4 linked regions of the Homo sapiens genome follow. The protein of the gene in region 2 purifies or fractionates together with the protein of the main gene of each other region. This does not show direct contact. Each region holds a gene or a part of one and is shown on either strand. Other genes may lie near its edges.

Evidence for each region. Proteins that work in one complex are often made in the same cells at the same time.
Region 1: the proteins of ACTR1A (region 2) and SMC4 fractionate together in Homo sapiens (co-fractionation; one large-scale study listed by BioGRID). This does not show direct contact.
Region 3: the proteins of ACTR1A (region 2) and FNBP1 fractionate together in Homo sapiens (co-fractionation; one large-scale study listed by BioGRID). This does not show direct contact.
Region 4: the proteins of ACTR1A (region 2) and VPS50 fractionate together in Homo sapiens (co-fractionation; one large-scale study listed by BioGRID). This does not show direct contact.

The regions. Positions count from the first base shown.
Region 1 is NC_000003.12:160,433,052-160,435,453, reverse strand, and holds the end of SMC4 (structural maintenance of chromosomes protein 4), read right to left. Parts: coding exon 2,245-2,402; intron 1,798-2,244; coding exon 1,645-1,797; 3' UTR 501-1,644; downstream 1-500. UniProt on the Homo sapiens protein: Central component of the condensin complex, a complex required for conversion of interphase chromatin into mitotic-like condense chromosomes.
Region 2 is NC_000010.11:102,481,303-102,486,875, reverse strand, and holds part of ACTR1A (alpha-centractin), read left to right. Parts: intron 1-1,142; coding exon 1,143-1,267; intron 1,268-2,499; coding exon 2,500-2,716; intron 2,717-3,772; coding exon 3,773-3,865; intron 3,866-4,700; coding exon 4,701-4,875; intron 4,876-4,977; coding exon 4,978-5,039; intron 5,040-5,573. UniProt on the Homo sapiens protein: Part of the ACTR1A/ACTB filament around which the dynactin complex is built. The dynactin multiprotein complex activates the molecular motor dynein for ultra-processive transport along microtubules.
Region 3 is NC_000009.12:129,886,687-129,889,938, reverse strand, and holds the end of FNBP1 (formin-binding protein 1), read left to right. Parts: 3' UTR 1-2,752; downstream 2,753-3,252. UniProt on the Homo sapiens protein: May act as a link between RND2 signaling and regulation of the actin cytoskeleton. Required to coordinate membrane tubulation with reorganization of the actin cytoskeleton during the late stage of clathrin-mediated endocytosis.
Region 4 is NC_000007.14:93,238,866-93,242,365, forward strand, and holds part of VPS50 (syndetin), read left to right. Parts: intron 1-1,000; coding exon 1,001-1,069; exon of another isoform or gene 1,070-1,085; intron 1,086-3,500.

The DNA.
Region 1 (2,402 bases), on a different chromosome or scaffold from region 2:
ATTTTCACATGGGTTCTGGGTACTTCTAATTCTTTGAAACTTAGTACTGCAGGCTGGGTGCAGTGGCTCATGCCTATAGTCCAGCACTTTGGGAGGCTGAGGCAGGCAGATCACTTGAGGCCAGGAGTTTGAGACCAGCTTGGCCAACATGGCAAAACCCTGTCTACCAAAAACACAAAAATTAGCTGGGCACTGTGGTGTGCACCTGTAGTCCCAGCTACTCATGTGGCTGAGGCACTTGAATCGCTTGAACCCGTGAGGCAGGGTTGCAGTGAGCCAAGATCTTGCCACAGCACTCCACCCTGGGTGATGCAGTGAGACTTTCAAAAAAAAAAAAAAAATCTGAGCTCTACTGCATTGGTTATTAAAATATAATAAAAGTATTAAATTCTATTTTCGCACCAAATGAAAACACTTGATTATCATTATAGCACTTTAAACTTACTTTTCCCTTATATATTCTTGATTTAGAACAAATTACCGTACTTGAATTTCCGATCTTGCTTTCTTTAAATCTTTATTTAAAAGTCCATGCTAATAATGTGTTTACATTTTTACAGTTACATTATGATAGAAACTGTTGGATTTTTTAAATATCTAAAACAATGGCCCACTGAAGAAAGGAACAATTAACTCTTTAATTAATTCCTTAGGATAAATACCCAGAAATTTAACAGCTAGGGCAGACTTCTAATACAATACCGAAAGTCCTTCCAAAAACCAAGTGGTTGCCAACTTATGTCCCTTAGCATTATAACATTCTTGAGCCAATAGTGTAAAAATACGCTGACAATTTTATAGGCAAACATTACTCAAGGTATCTTACTTTCCACTTATTACTAAAGTAATTAACCCCTAAATAGATGCTCCTCAACAGTGGGACTACATCCTGGTAAACCTATCATAAGTTGAAACTATCAAGTTGAAATGCATTTAGTACCCGGATAAACCTATCATAAAGTTGAAAATTTGTAAATTGAACCAGTGTAAATCAGAGGCCATCTTACTTCATACTCATGAAGCAACTATAGTGGGATATTTTTCAACTTACGAGATAGCCTAGGCTTGTTGAAACACTGTCCTAATTTACTGGCTCTCTGGTAATTAAGTCATAAATGGTCAAACATCAAATTCTAGAAAAGCATATATTTAAATTCTCATCACTATAATTCAGAATGACTGGTTTACAAAAATATGTTCATAGTATTTGGGTAATAACTGTGGTGATTGTCTCAACTGGCAAGCTAAGTGGAATGCCTTAAAGAATCTATCCAAGATTAGTTGGCAGGCATTTCCAGTGTTGGTAAATCAAAGGCCCACGAAGGTATGCTGAGCCTTGATAGCACAACCTTGCTTAGGACTTTGCCTCAACTAACATACTTTTTAGTTTGGCAAGTTACCTGACCCTCCAGGTAACTCATTTTTCTCCATAGTCTGCTACTTACAAGATTGTCATATTTTTGTAATCTAGAAGCAATTATAGAGAATATTTTATTAGACTTTACAAATGACAACTGCATAAAACAGAAACCAGTTTCATGATCTAGTTTAGGGAGTATGTATTTTATACAACTCATAATCCTTTACAAATAGAAAAAAATCAGTAATACACTGAATCAACTTGAAGAATCTTCAGCATAAAGTTCAACAAAGTCCCTTAGATGCAATTTCTTTTGGATTTACAGCAACACTTTTTGTTATGTTGTATGTCTTGTAAATTCCAATAAGTCTATCCGAAATCTCAAACATATTATTTCGAAGAGAAATTATTATGAACTGTGCATTTTTTGTTTGTTCCTAAAGAGAAACAAAGAAAAGTCAAACATTAAGTAATAACAGGTAAATCACACAAACATGTAACCTCAAATATTTTTTGGACAATAAACATTACATTGATAACATGTAAAGGAATGATGGCAGGAATAATTCATAAAACAGTATTTGAGTGTGAAAGGAATTTGGTTATTTTGACTTCTAGTGGAAAAGATCTAGGAAGATGACCTAGGATTCTAGCTGTGATTCTGCTACTAATTTGCATTTTTAATTTATATTTTACTCCTCCAAAATGGAAATATTTGGTTCAAATAAAAAATAATTTGGTCTCCACTGATACCAGAGGAGATGGAGATGGAGTTATTAGACAATAAAGAAAAAGCTCAATTGTAAGAAATAAAGAATTCCATGTGTAATGTTTAGGATACCCCTAAAAGTTTCTGGAATGAAAATCCCAAAATGATTACTTACATATATATAAAATGCAACAATGGACACATTTTTAAAATCAAGGGCTGCATCAATCTCATCCATGAAGTAAAGGGGAGTGGGCTTGTAGTGGTGAAGAGCAAATACTAAAGCCAATGAACTAAGTGTTTTCTCTCCTCCCGAAAGGTTGAAGATCTTTT
Region 2 (5,573 bases):
GCATCGAGGTTGCAGTAAGCCAAGATCGCACCACTGAACTCGCAGCCTGGTGACAGAGTGAGACCTTGTCTCAAAAAAAAAAAAAGAAAGAAAGAAAATGCAGAGAGGTGCAGACTAGGTGTATCAATTTCCAGGTGCAGGTGGGATGTTTTCAGTTTTGGGTTTTTTTTGTTTGCTTTTTTGAGATGGAGTTTCGCTCTTGTGGCCTAGGCTAGAGTGCAATGGCGCAATCTCGGCTCACCGCAACCTCTGCCTCCCAGGTTCAAGCGATTCTCCTGCCTGAGCCTTCCTGAGTAGCTGGGATTACAGGCATGCACCACCACCAAGCCCGGCTAATTTTGTATTTTTAGTAGAGACGGGGTTTCTCCATGTTGGTCAGGCTGGTCTCGAACTCCCGACCTCAGATGATCCGCACGCCTCAGCCTCCCAAGGTGCTGGGATTACAGGTGTGAGCCACCACGCCCGGCTGTTTTCAGACAGTTTTTTTAAAGCAGTGGTCCCCAACCTTTCTGGCACCAGGGACTAGTTTCTTGGAAGACAGTTTTTCCATGGGGGTGGGGGTTTGGGGTGGCCAGATAGTTTCAGGATGAAGCTGTTCCACCTCTGATCATCAGGCATTCAATTCTCATAAGGAGTGCCCAACCTAGATCCCTCACATGCGCAGTTCACAGTAGGGTTCACACTCCTATGAGAATCTAGTGCCTTGGATGATCTGATGGGAGGTGGAGCTCAGACAATAATGCTCGCTTACCTGCCATTCACCTCCTGCTGTGCAGCCTGGTTCCTAACAGGTCACAGACTAGAACTGGTCTGCGGCAGGAATTTAGAGTTTCACAAAATCTTCTTGACAGTTGGAGATACACAGTAGACACAGGGGCCTGTATAACAATCTTGGAGGACAAGGAGGGGAGTTGGGGGGCACAGCTGAGGACAGAATGAAATTTTAAAGTGGGCATTAACTTGAAAAGTTGAGAAAACTACTTGGGCAGGGATAGTTGACAGGCACAGCTTGCCTTTTTTTGGAGTGAGGCTGACTGAAGTCCCCGGGCTCTCAAACCAGCAAGGCAGGGTCTTCTCCCCTAAGACTAATGAAGATGGAAATCTGGCCTTGGCCTCATTGTCTCCCGGGCTCCTTTCACCAGCATCCTGTGCTCCTGACTGAGGCGCCTTTAAACCCACGAAAAAACCGGGAACGAGCTGCCGAAGTTTTCTTCGAGACCTTCAATGTGCCCGCTCTTTTCATCTCCATGCAAGCTGTACTCAGCCTGTGAGTAGCAGCTGGCTAGCCCGGCCCCTGCGGGGAAAGCAGTCCTTTGGCACAGCTGAGGCTGGCTCTCCTCTGGAATGGTTCAGAGTAACTTGAGCCCCCTCTGCTAGGGAAAGGTTAAAGATGGTGGGAAAGAGAGAGAGGCTTTTGCTGAAACTGAGCACTGAGGCTTCGTAGTTGAAAGCAAAGAAGGACATGTGGCTGCTATTGACCATATCCCAGTGTCAGGACTCCTAGTGGGTTTGGTCCCCAAGGCCTTGGCTGGGCCTGCCGAGGCAGCCACATGCTGCAGCAGCTCTTCCCGGAGGCCCCCGTAATGTGTCCACTTATTATTCAGCACTTACTGTGGCCAGCTGCTCTGCCAGGCTGTGAGACAACCATGATCCGAATGCCACCACAGTCCTTGTTCCCATCCCCCGTGGCTCCTGTCACACTCCTACCCCACCTCACACCAGAGTGAGGTCTACGGCAGAGATTATCCACAAGTGACCTACACGTGGGATTTATTTGACCCCATTAACAAACTGTGAGCCAGCATTTAAAAATCAAGAGGTGTCCCATCAAAACCCAAATTTTTGGCTTCTCTGAAAAAATGGGAAGATCTGGGAAGGTCGGGCACACATTCCCACAGGGCAAAAATCAGCTGGAGCTGAAGAGCGGCTGCCACTTGAGATGGGGCTGGCAAGCCCACCCTCCCCACAGCCTGTCCATGCTCTGTTGGCCTCTCCGCACTGAAGCAGGGGGTCAGTTGCCTCACTTGCCTTTTTTTGGAGGGAGGCTGACAAAGGTCCCCGGGCTCTCAAACCAGTAAAGCAGGGTCTTCTCCTGCCTTTGTTTTTTATGGAAGTGAAAAATATTCTTATTTTTCTTTACTCTTACTTTTCCTGCCTGGCCCCTGTTGACATTTGAGGGTTTTTGCCTTTTGTCTAGAGAGTTAAAACTGGCCCCTAGGCTGGGTCTCTGAAGCAGCTGAAGGCCAGGCCATCTCAGACAGGAAGGCCTGCTCTTCTGGGTACGGGGAGGGAACTTGGAGAAGATCAGCAACTTCCGTTCAGGTATTTCATGGCTTGCTCCAACACCTGGGCTTCCTTAGTACCCAGTCCATTCTACAGACCCTGGAGAGAGGCAGGCCCAAGCTTTAGTTTAGCTGACATTGAACCCTAAATAAAGAAGTGTATTTCTTCCCAGCGTGAGGAGGCAGTGCTGAGTGACGGTTTGCCCCTTTGCTTCAGTTACGCTACAGGCAGGACCACAGGGGTGGTGCTGGATTCTGGGGATGGAGTCACCCATGCTGTGCCCATCTATGAGGGCTTTGCCATGCCCCACTCCATCATGCGCATCGACATCGCGGGCCGGGACGTCTCTCGCTTCCTGCGCCTCTACCTGCGTAAGGAGGGCTACGACTTCCACTCATCCTCTGAGTTTGAGATTGTCAAGGCCATAAAAGAAGTAAGTGCTGCCCCCTGGGCCTAGGGATGGAGTGGGGGTTGGGAGCATAGCACCCAGGACCTTGGTGACCTGCCAGTGAAGCCAGGCAAAGCACCTGCCTGGGGGTCCCTGGTGAGGCCTTGTTCTTCCCAGCCAGGTCTCCCCTACGTCACACTGACAGATTCGCCTTCCTGACGTGCTGCCATCTTGTTGGGGGAAAGGGAGCTGCTTCCATTTCTTCAGTTGGGTGATGGCTACATAGGGGCTCAGTATGTTTTTTATACCTTATATGCAAATTACATAGGGTTTGGTTTTGTTTCATTTTGTTTTGTTTCTGAGATGGAGTCTCGCTCTGTCGCCCAGGCTGCAGTGCAATGGTGTGATCTCGGCTCACTGTAACCTCTGCCTCCCGGGTTCAAGCAATCGCTTGAATCCTGCCTCAGCCTCCCAAGTAGCTGGGATTATAGGTGCCTGCCACCACACCCCACTAATTTTTGTATTTTTAGCAGAGACATGGTTTCACCATGTTGATCAGGCTGGTCTCAAACTCCTGACCACAAGTGATCTGCCCGCCTCAGCCTCCCAAAGTGCTAGAATTGCAGCATGAGCTACCGCGCCCACTCCTGGTTTTTTTATTTTTATTTTTTTAACATCCTTGAAGAAGTCATAATACATTTAAAACATTTGTCTTTGTAAGTAAACTGAAACCTCCTGCCACCTGTGGCTATAGGGAAAACTCGAGCTGGGTAGGACCAGAACCATATGAGTGGTAGAAGGAGAAAGATGCCTGGGCCTGGGCTGAACTTAGGTTGTGGTCTCAGACCTAGGATCCAGGGGCCAAGTTTCCAAGCTTGCCCATCAGGAAGGTGGAGCGGTTAAGAACTCATATGCTAAATGCCACCCAGTGAAGGCCAACAGAGACCTCACTGCCCCTGCTTCTGGGCAGCAGCTATAGTGACCATTGGGGCCATCACAACGTTTAGACAGGTTTGTGCAGCAGCACATTCCTCCCCTGGGCCTTTGACTGGATGTGCACCAGATTTCCTGCCAGCCTGACTGTCTTGCTTGGATCTGCAGAGAGCCTGTTACCTATCCATAAACCCCCAAAAGGATGAGACGCTAGAGACAGAGAAAGCTCAGTACTACCTGCCTGATGGCAGCACCATTGAGGTAGGTGGCCTGCCTTCTTTCTTCGGTCCCCTTAGGTCCACAAAAGCTCTGGGCCCAACCAGAATTCTCCATCAGGGTCTGGAGTCTGGCAGGCCAGTCCCTTTACACCAAGCTTGTCCAACCCCTGGCCCATGGGCTGCACGTGGCCCAGGATGGCTTTCAGTAAGGCCCAACACAAAGTCGTAAACTTTCTTAAAACATTATGAGATTCTTTTGCAATTTTTTTTTTTAGCTCAGCAGCTGTCATTAGTGTTAGTGTATATTATGTGTGGCCCAAGACAATTCTTCTTCCAATGTGGCCCAGGGAAGCCAAAAGACTGGACACCCCAGCCTTACACCCTCTCTCTGGAGCAGCAGAGCTCCTGAGCATGAGTGGCCCTGTCTCCTGCAGAGGAGGCAGCCAGAACTTTGCTCCCTCCCGCTAGAGGGGAGGAAGCTCCTAAGGGATTGTCCCACATCAGTATGAGATTAGGAAGTGGGATGGTTAGTGCCATCCTTCACCACACCTGGGTGCAGTGTAGGGTGAGTTACCACTCCCTTGAACCCCCATTGCTAGGAAGACGTTTCCATGAGCAAATAAATCCATGTACTGATGCCAAAGACCTCTTGGCTGGAAAATGCCAGAGCGAGAAGGAAATATAGGAGCCTCCCCTCACTAGTTTCCAGGAGGCCTATCTTTGTTCCTTTAAGCCCTTGACATGTAGAGTCTGTCTTGAGCCTGGCCTTCATAGCCACCCAGTTACTAAGTGACGTGCAGAGGGGCGTCTTCCATTCCCACTCCCAAAGGGACCTTGGTCCCAGCTCCGACCTCTTCAGCTGGCCCTCCTACCTGCAGATTGGTCCTTCCCGATTCCGGGCCCCTGAGTTGCTCTTCAGGCCAGATTTGATTGGAGAGGAGAGTGAAGGCATCCACGAGGTCCTGGTGTTCGCCATTCAGAAGTCAGACATGGACCTGCGGCGCACGCTTTTCTCTAACATTGTCCTCTCAGGAGGCTCTACCCTGTTCAAAGGTTTGTCTCTTCTCTTGGAGCCCTTCCCCTGGAAGTGTTCAGCTCCTGCTGGCTCCAGGCACCCTGAGAATTGACTTGAAGTTCTCCTCTTTGCCCATTCAGGTTTTGGTGACAGGCTCCTGAGTGAAGTGAAGAAACTAGCTCCAAAAGATGTGAAGATCAGGGTAGGAGCATGGTGGGGCCTGGCCTGGGTGGAACTAGGCTTCCATGGACAGAGTGCCACCTGGCGTAGCTTCCCTCTAGCTTTGCCCAAGCTCTTCAAGCAGCCATGGCTCTACAAGCAGCGCCAGGTTCCCAGCCTGTACACTGACCCTGAGGTCTAGGTCAGCCACAGGGAGGCTGAGTTCTCATTCTCCCTCTTCACACCAAAGGCAGGCAGTTCTAATACCCAGATGAGGCAGGGTACTAGGTAGAGGGCCCCCTGCGTGATCTTTCAGGGAAACTATAATCTTAAGAGGAGACTGACTTACTGTTGCTGTGCCCCCTGCCCAGGTGGCTCCCCTGTCACACAGTCTGACACCTTAGTGATAGGTGAAGGAGGTTGGCTGTCTGAGGAGAGCGGGGATCCTAAAGGAAGGAGTACAGTTCTTGCCATGGAGTCTGCTTCTCCCTGCCCCCCCCAATAGTCCCAGCTTCCCTGGGACCTGTGGGGACTGGAAACCTGCTTCCCCAGATGAGTGGCAGGCTGGCCACAGTGC
Region 3 (3,252 bases), on a different chromosome or scaffold from region 2:
GAGCATCTGGCAGGCAGGGGGGCAGGTACACACACACCCACAGGCACACCCACCAGTACACACGCGTGCGCATACACACATTTTGGTTTGACGCCCTGTTTTCAGTGGCCTGGGGAGGTCCACACTGGAAGTCGAATTCCAGCTCGCCTTGTTGACTCGCCTGTGTCCACCGGCCATGAGGAGCCCACGCCTGTCCTCCCCATCACTTTCCTGTCCCTGAGAACTGTAGATCATGCGCTTGTGAGCGAGGCCCTCCCCTCTGCACCAGCTCATTGCAAAGCGAACATCCTCTCCTTTCCAGGAGCCCCAGGATTAGCATCTGAAAAGGGTAGCACTTCCTTTTTTGTTGTTGTTTTTTTTTTTTTTTTGAGACGGGAGTCTCGCTCTATTGTTCAGACTGGAGTGCAGTGGCATGATCTCGGCTCACTACAACCTCCACCTCCTGGGTTCCAGCGATTCTCCTGCCTCAGCCTCCCAAATAGCTGTGATTACAGGCGTGCACCACCACGCCCGGCTAATGTTTGTATTTTTAGTAGAGACAGGGTTTCACCGTGTTGGTCAGGCTGGTCTCAAACTCCTGACCTCAGGTGATCCGCCCGCCTCAGCCTCCCAAAGTGCTGAGATTACAGGTGTGAGCTACCGCACCCCGCCGAGGTTAGCACTTTCATCACCAAAGACCCCGTGCCTCTCGTGGTCCTTTGAGGGATCCCGCCGCCACCACCCTTGTATTTTATCACGTGCTCTTCAGGGCATGTGGAATTCGTTGAGTTTGCTTTTAGAGCCAAGTTTCTTTCCCTGTGTGGGTTTTTGAGGAAAACCTGAGGTCCCCTAATCTGTGGCCACCACCCCCCCCCCCCGCCACGCCTTAGAGCAGAGCAGCCCCTCCTCTCATTTGGTGCAGAAACAGTCAAGAGGAACCATTGGCCTAGAGCTCCTGTGACCGAGAGCGCCACGGAAGCCTGGGGATGACGTCGGGCAGCTTTATTCTTTGCTTGGCTTTGGTAACTAGGTGGTCCCCTCAAGCATCCTCAGTTCCTCTTGCTGTTTATGAATCTAAGACAAGGAAGTCCTATAGAAGCCAAAGGGACAGGGACGGAAAGGACAGGTCCCAAGGGATGGGGCTGTCTTTACTTGTGGAAACCAGGAAATTGCTCCTCTCAGCCAACCAAGGTTGACCACACACCACCCTTCCGGAGCAGCTCAGTCAGCCCTCGGGGACGAGAAACCACAAGCGCAGAGACGCTGAGGCCCAGGCAGGTGAAGAGGAAGTGGCTTTGGGTTTTTAAAGTAGGTGAGCGTGAGCCTCTCTGACTGCTTCTTCCCCGGGGGGGACTGCAAACCGCTCAGGGTTGCGGCAGAGCCATGGACTTCCGGTCCCTGCAACGGGTGACCTAAGCGTGGTGCACCCATCAGTCACGCAGGAGGACTGACTTGACAGACGAAAGACAAGCCCGGATGACACAGGGTGAGAAGAGTCAGGGCCGCACCTCTGTCCCTGCAAACCAACAGGTGCATGGTGAGTGTGGCAGTCCCCACAGCTCCACAATGGGCTCCCCCGCCAACGGGGACGACAGGGATCTTCAGGAACTTCTGACCTCACCAAGTCAAGTGGACCACTCTCCACTCCACGAGGATGTGAAACGGTTCTTTAAAATGGGATTTTAGAGCCTCGGGAATGCATGTGCGTCACATCTTTCATATTATGGGTCAGGATAGATTCATTTCTTGCAACATAGTGGAAAAGATATAAGCTGCAGTAATTTGCTCTTTGAATGACCGTCACCCCCAGTATAGGATATGCTTGTATCCCCCCGTCACTCCTCCGCCTGTTTTTTAAACTTTTCCACCACCTGCGTCCAAAAAGAATGTTATAGCGAGTGCTCTTAAATGTTGAACCTGGGTGTTGCTTCCGGGCCAGTCTGCGTGGCTCCATGAAAAGCTCACTGCTGCCCCAGCCGGGCTTCTTAGAGGAGGTCAGTTGTCCTATGTATCATCATTTACTCTGGGAATCCTACTGTGAAATCATGTCTGTATTTTTCTGGAGCAGTTCACATAGAGTAGAATGTGGAATTTCCCGTGAACGTCTCCTTCCTCCCCCGTATCTGCCGCCTGTCACTTCGCCACCGTGCTAGAATACTGTTGTGTTGTAAGATGACTAATTTTAAAAGAACCTGCCCTGAAAAGTTCTTAGAAACGCAGTGAAAGGGAGGAACTTGTCCTTTACCCAGTTTTTCCTTTGTAGGATGGGAAAGTATAAAAAGGCACAGAAGGTTGTCATGGGCTGTTCCTTGGGGGTTTTTATCCTGCTCACCGTGGAGATAAGCCTGCGGCTTGTCTAACCAGCGCAGCGCAAAGGTCTCGATGCCTTTTGGTAACATCCGTCATTGCAGAAGAAAGTTTACACGACGTCAAAAAGTGACGTTCATGCTAAGTGTTTTTCCAGAAATATTGGTTTCATGTTTCTTATTGGCTCTGCCTCCTGTGCTTATATCATCCAAAAACTTTTTAAAAAGGTCCAGAATTCTATTTTAACCTGATGTTGAGCACCTTTAAAATGTTCGTATGTGTGTTGCACTAATTCTAAACTTTGGAGGCATTTTGCTGTGTGAGGCCGATCGCCACTGTAAAGGTCCTAGAGTTGCCTGTTTGTCTCTGGAGATGGAATTAAACCAAATAAAGAGCTTCCACTGGAGGCTTGTATTGACCTTGTAACTATATGTTAATCTCGTGTTAAAATAAAATATAACTTGTGGCTCCGTGTCACGGGACTGTTTTGTTGCATGAAGATATGACCCTAGTTGTGGAAGCAGCCTGGTGTCATTGGAAGCCCCCTGGGCTGGGGAGCTGGCCCCTGGGAGGAGCTGGAGACCTAGATAGCTCTCAGTTCCACCCCCATCCACGGTGGAGGGGGAGGCTCTCAGACCGTGGTGACGTGGAATTCGGGCTGATGTAGTGCGAGGATTGCGAGAGGCTGCTTATGGCCAGGAGTATTTTTTGCATGCACATTCAACTGGTTGCTGCTCTAGCTCTTTGGGGACCTCATTGCTTGGGGCTGGGGCAGGAGGAGGTGGTGAAATGAGGGCACACCTGAGTTTCATTATTTATCTGGTATCACCAGTGCTCAAGCCGGTACTCCTGGTGGCGTGGCTGGAATCACTAGTTTCTGTGAAGCTGCAGGCAGTGCGGAGCTGTTTCACGTGGACAACTCGAAAGGGCAGCAGCCTTGTGCCTGGCACTGGCTGGACATGTGCA
Region 4 (3,500 bases), on a different chromosome or scaffold from region 2:
GAGAAGGGTGGGTAGGTTAGATATTCTGGGGGTAATGGAAAACTTGCGGTTGAGGCAGAGCACTTTGTAATAAAAAATTTTAGATATGACTAGTGGTATTTTACAACAGGGAAGAGAAAATACACATCTCTGTAGTTTAAAGATAAGCAAGTTCTGCTCTGAGTCTCAAATAGTCAACATAAGCATACCATATATTTTGGTTACTAAGGATCCCCAATATAGGGCACCTAAAGGACAATTTGTATCATAAATCTCTCCTCAAATTAATAATAGCTAATTTTGCCTAAAAACTAATATTGCAGGGACATTAAATGTCTGCTTCGAATAGCCTATTTTTAAAAAGAGGATTTTAAAGAAAATGTAAATTGCTGATTTCTTTCTATTTTAATAATTTCCCCTGGTACAAATAAAGCTTTCAGAATCCCTCAGTTGATGTGAATATAGAAAGTACAGGGCACCAAAGAACTAAAGGACAGGTAAAAGACAGTGAGATATGAGACTTCAATCTTAATTTATGCAGCATGAATTGGATACATTGGTGGGAAATAATCAAGTAAAATGAAGGGATTACTTATATGTTAGCTTAGTTGGTTAGTATATTGTATCTGTGAATCATAATACTATTGCTTGGACTTTTTTCCTGATGGATTTAGTAATTATTATTGTATATACAAGTGGCTTTTATAGAATGCTTTTTGTTATGTAAGTTTCTTTACTTTTGGCTGTTTTCAAATCATAGATGGGTTGGACTTCTACCATTAGTTGTGAAGTTGCCGTATAATACTCTTTTATTTTAAAATACCAAAAGTACACCCTTCTCTGATTTAATAATAGTACTATATGTATTAAATGATGATTGCTTTTAGAATATATCTTCCATATTTTGAAGCAGGAAAATTTCTATTTTTAAAGTGGTCATTTCTGTTTCAGTAGGTGTATTCTATCCTTTTATAATTCTTCAGCATGATTAAAATTTTCCTCATCTTATTATTTTTTTAAGGGTCTGAAAAGCCCTCAAGAAAGCCTCAGTGATCTTGGTGCCATAGAGAGTCTCCGGGTCCCTGGAAAGGTATTGAGCTACACGTGTGAGCGTGACTTTTTACTTCCTTAAGAAAATATGATTGCCTCTGGATAGTAATTGATTCACAGAAGCTTTTCTTTCCCACAGGCAGATGGTTGTTAAGATAAGCTAGGTAAATTTTTATTGTATAGTAGGTGTAGGGCTTGTTTCATTACACGTTGGGATGCAGTATGTATGATGCATTATAGCAAAGCAAAAAATGCAAACTTGATAAATTTGGAATTTATTATATTAAATTCTTAGCCTGAAAGCAGTTGTATATATGTGTATGCACACACACACACACACACACACACACACACACTCTCTCTCTCTCTCTCTCTCATTGATTTATCTGCTGTAATTTGTAGAAATAAAGTGAAATAGTTGACTACTGACTTTTTATACTCCTAACATTCTGTGCCAAAAATCATGATTATATTTTTGTTGTGGAGCAGAGGTTTTTGAAAAAGCATCTAAACCATAGTATTTATACTGAATTGTATAACTTATCTCCTAGATTGTAGGTATTTTAGATTTTAATCCTCTGATATTCACGTGAATTTCTCAGTTTACAAATTTTATATAGGTTATTTGAAAGCTAGCTAGATTCCCCTTGGAATTATTAAGTATTGTTAAATCCCTGCTGTTTTTCTGGAGTGTTGCTGCTTGGAGCTGCCCATGTGAATAGCTGCTCCATCACAGATTAAGCTGGCACTTCTGAATGTCTGTTTTTGTATTTTTTAATTTGAGAGTGATACGTGAAAATACTGTTTGTTTTCTGCATCAGGCATTTGAATACACAGGGTGTGCTTCTCTTGATCAGCAGTTTAAGGCCTCTCCTTACACCTCGGTGTCAGCTCCTTAGGAGGATGATTTCTCATCTCTTTCAGGTGCCTTACCTGCTAAAGTGAATTTTGTATTTACTGCATTGTTTTTATTTTGGGTTAGGCTGAAACATATTCTCCAAATGCAATAAAATTATAACCAACCCTTTTGCATGAAATGGTTCAGACAAAAACTTAAGAAAAGCATTCCGTATAGTTTTATGTAATGTTATTAAAAATTAATGACTATGAAAAGGTTGGGAAACAAGAGATAGCCATAAATCCTAATTAATTGACAATAATTCTCTTTATTTCTTTGAGTTAAGAAAAAGATTATCATGCATTATGAACATACCTTGAATTAGATTGTATTACATATTGCAGAATCAATGTCAAATTGATGAGTGAGCCTCTTTAAAAAAATACATTACAGTCTTAACAAGAACTTTCTGTTGTGTTTCCACCATGAGCCATGATGTTTTCCCAGTACTGGTTGGTAGTGAATATGGTGATCTCATTACAAAGTCTTCTTATTAAATGTACACCCCTAGCTCCATCAGTGACCAGTGCTGTCTGTACTTTTAGGATAACTGGCCTTGGGTGGAGTGGCCAGTCTGGGATCACAAGGTCAGCAAATATAAATGGTTCAGGTGAAGAGTAAGCCTAAAGCACTGGTCTCTTTAGCACATACTAAGAAGCTAAGTTAGTTAAATAATAAAACAGTTAATAGTAAAAAATGTATTGATGCTATAAGCTTACATTTAACCTTACACTAAGAAATCCCTACAAGCTTCATCTGCCTGTTTGTTTTTTCTGTGTTCTCCTATAGCATAACAAATGATGGAGGGTGAGCAGAGCTTCTGCCTTCTTTCTGGGTGGTTCTGAGAACATGAGAGTTGCTGGGTCCAGAGAGTGGCAAAGCTCCAGTCAGTAAACTGAGTCTTTGGATGAGGTTTGAAGTCAGTACTGAGATCAGGAGTTAAGAAGACTCATATTCAGAAATTCCCTACACAGCATAGCTTGATGTAGCTTTAATGTTCAGTATTTTTTCACAATTTAGATAAGACTTTATACTTAGATCATAACACATATATTTTAATGATTTATTTTTGTATAATTGCTTTGAAATTAATGTTGTTGCTAGTTCTTGATGACCTGAAATTTGATGTAATTGAAGAAGATCTTTAAGATCTTTTAAAATTAAGATTAAAAGCATTTTAACAAAATGGAAAATGTTAATTCAAATGATTATTTTGAAATAACTTTTGCTTTAAATATAAAATTAATGTATGCTCTAAACAGAAAACATGGTAAACGGAAAAAGGTATCTTAAAAAAAAAATCACAAAAATCACCAACACTGTCAAGGTTAACATTGCCTACTGGTCTTTTCCCTATGCATATTCCACAAATTTATTGAGTTTCTATGTGCTAGAGATACTTTCTAGGGATTGGCAGTATAGCAGTGAAAAGACAAAAGTTCTCTCCAAAAGTCAAAACTTCCCTGCTGTCAGACAGCGAGCTTACATTCAAGCAGGGGTAAGGCGATTACAGATTATAATACTGTGAAGGAAACAGGGCGATGAGATAAACTCCTTGAAATTGGCAGTTATT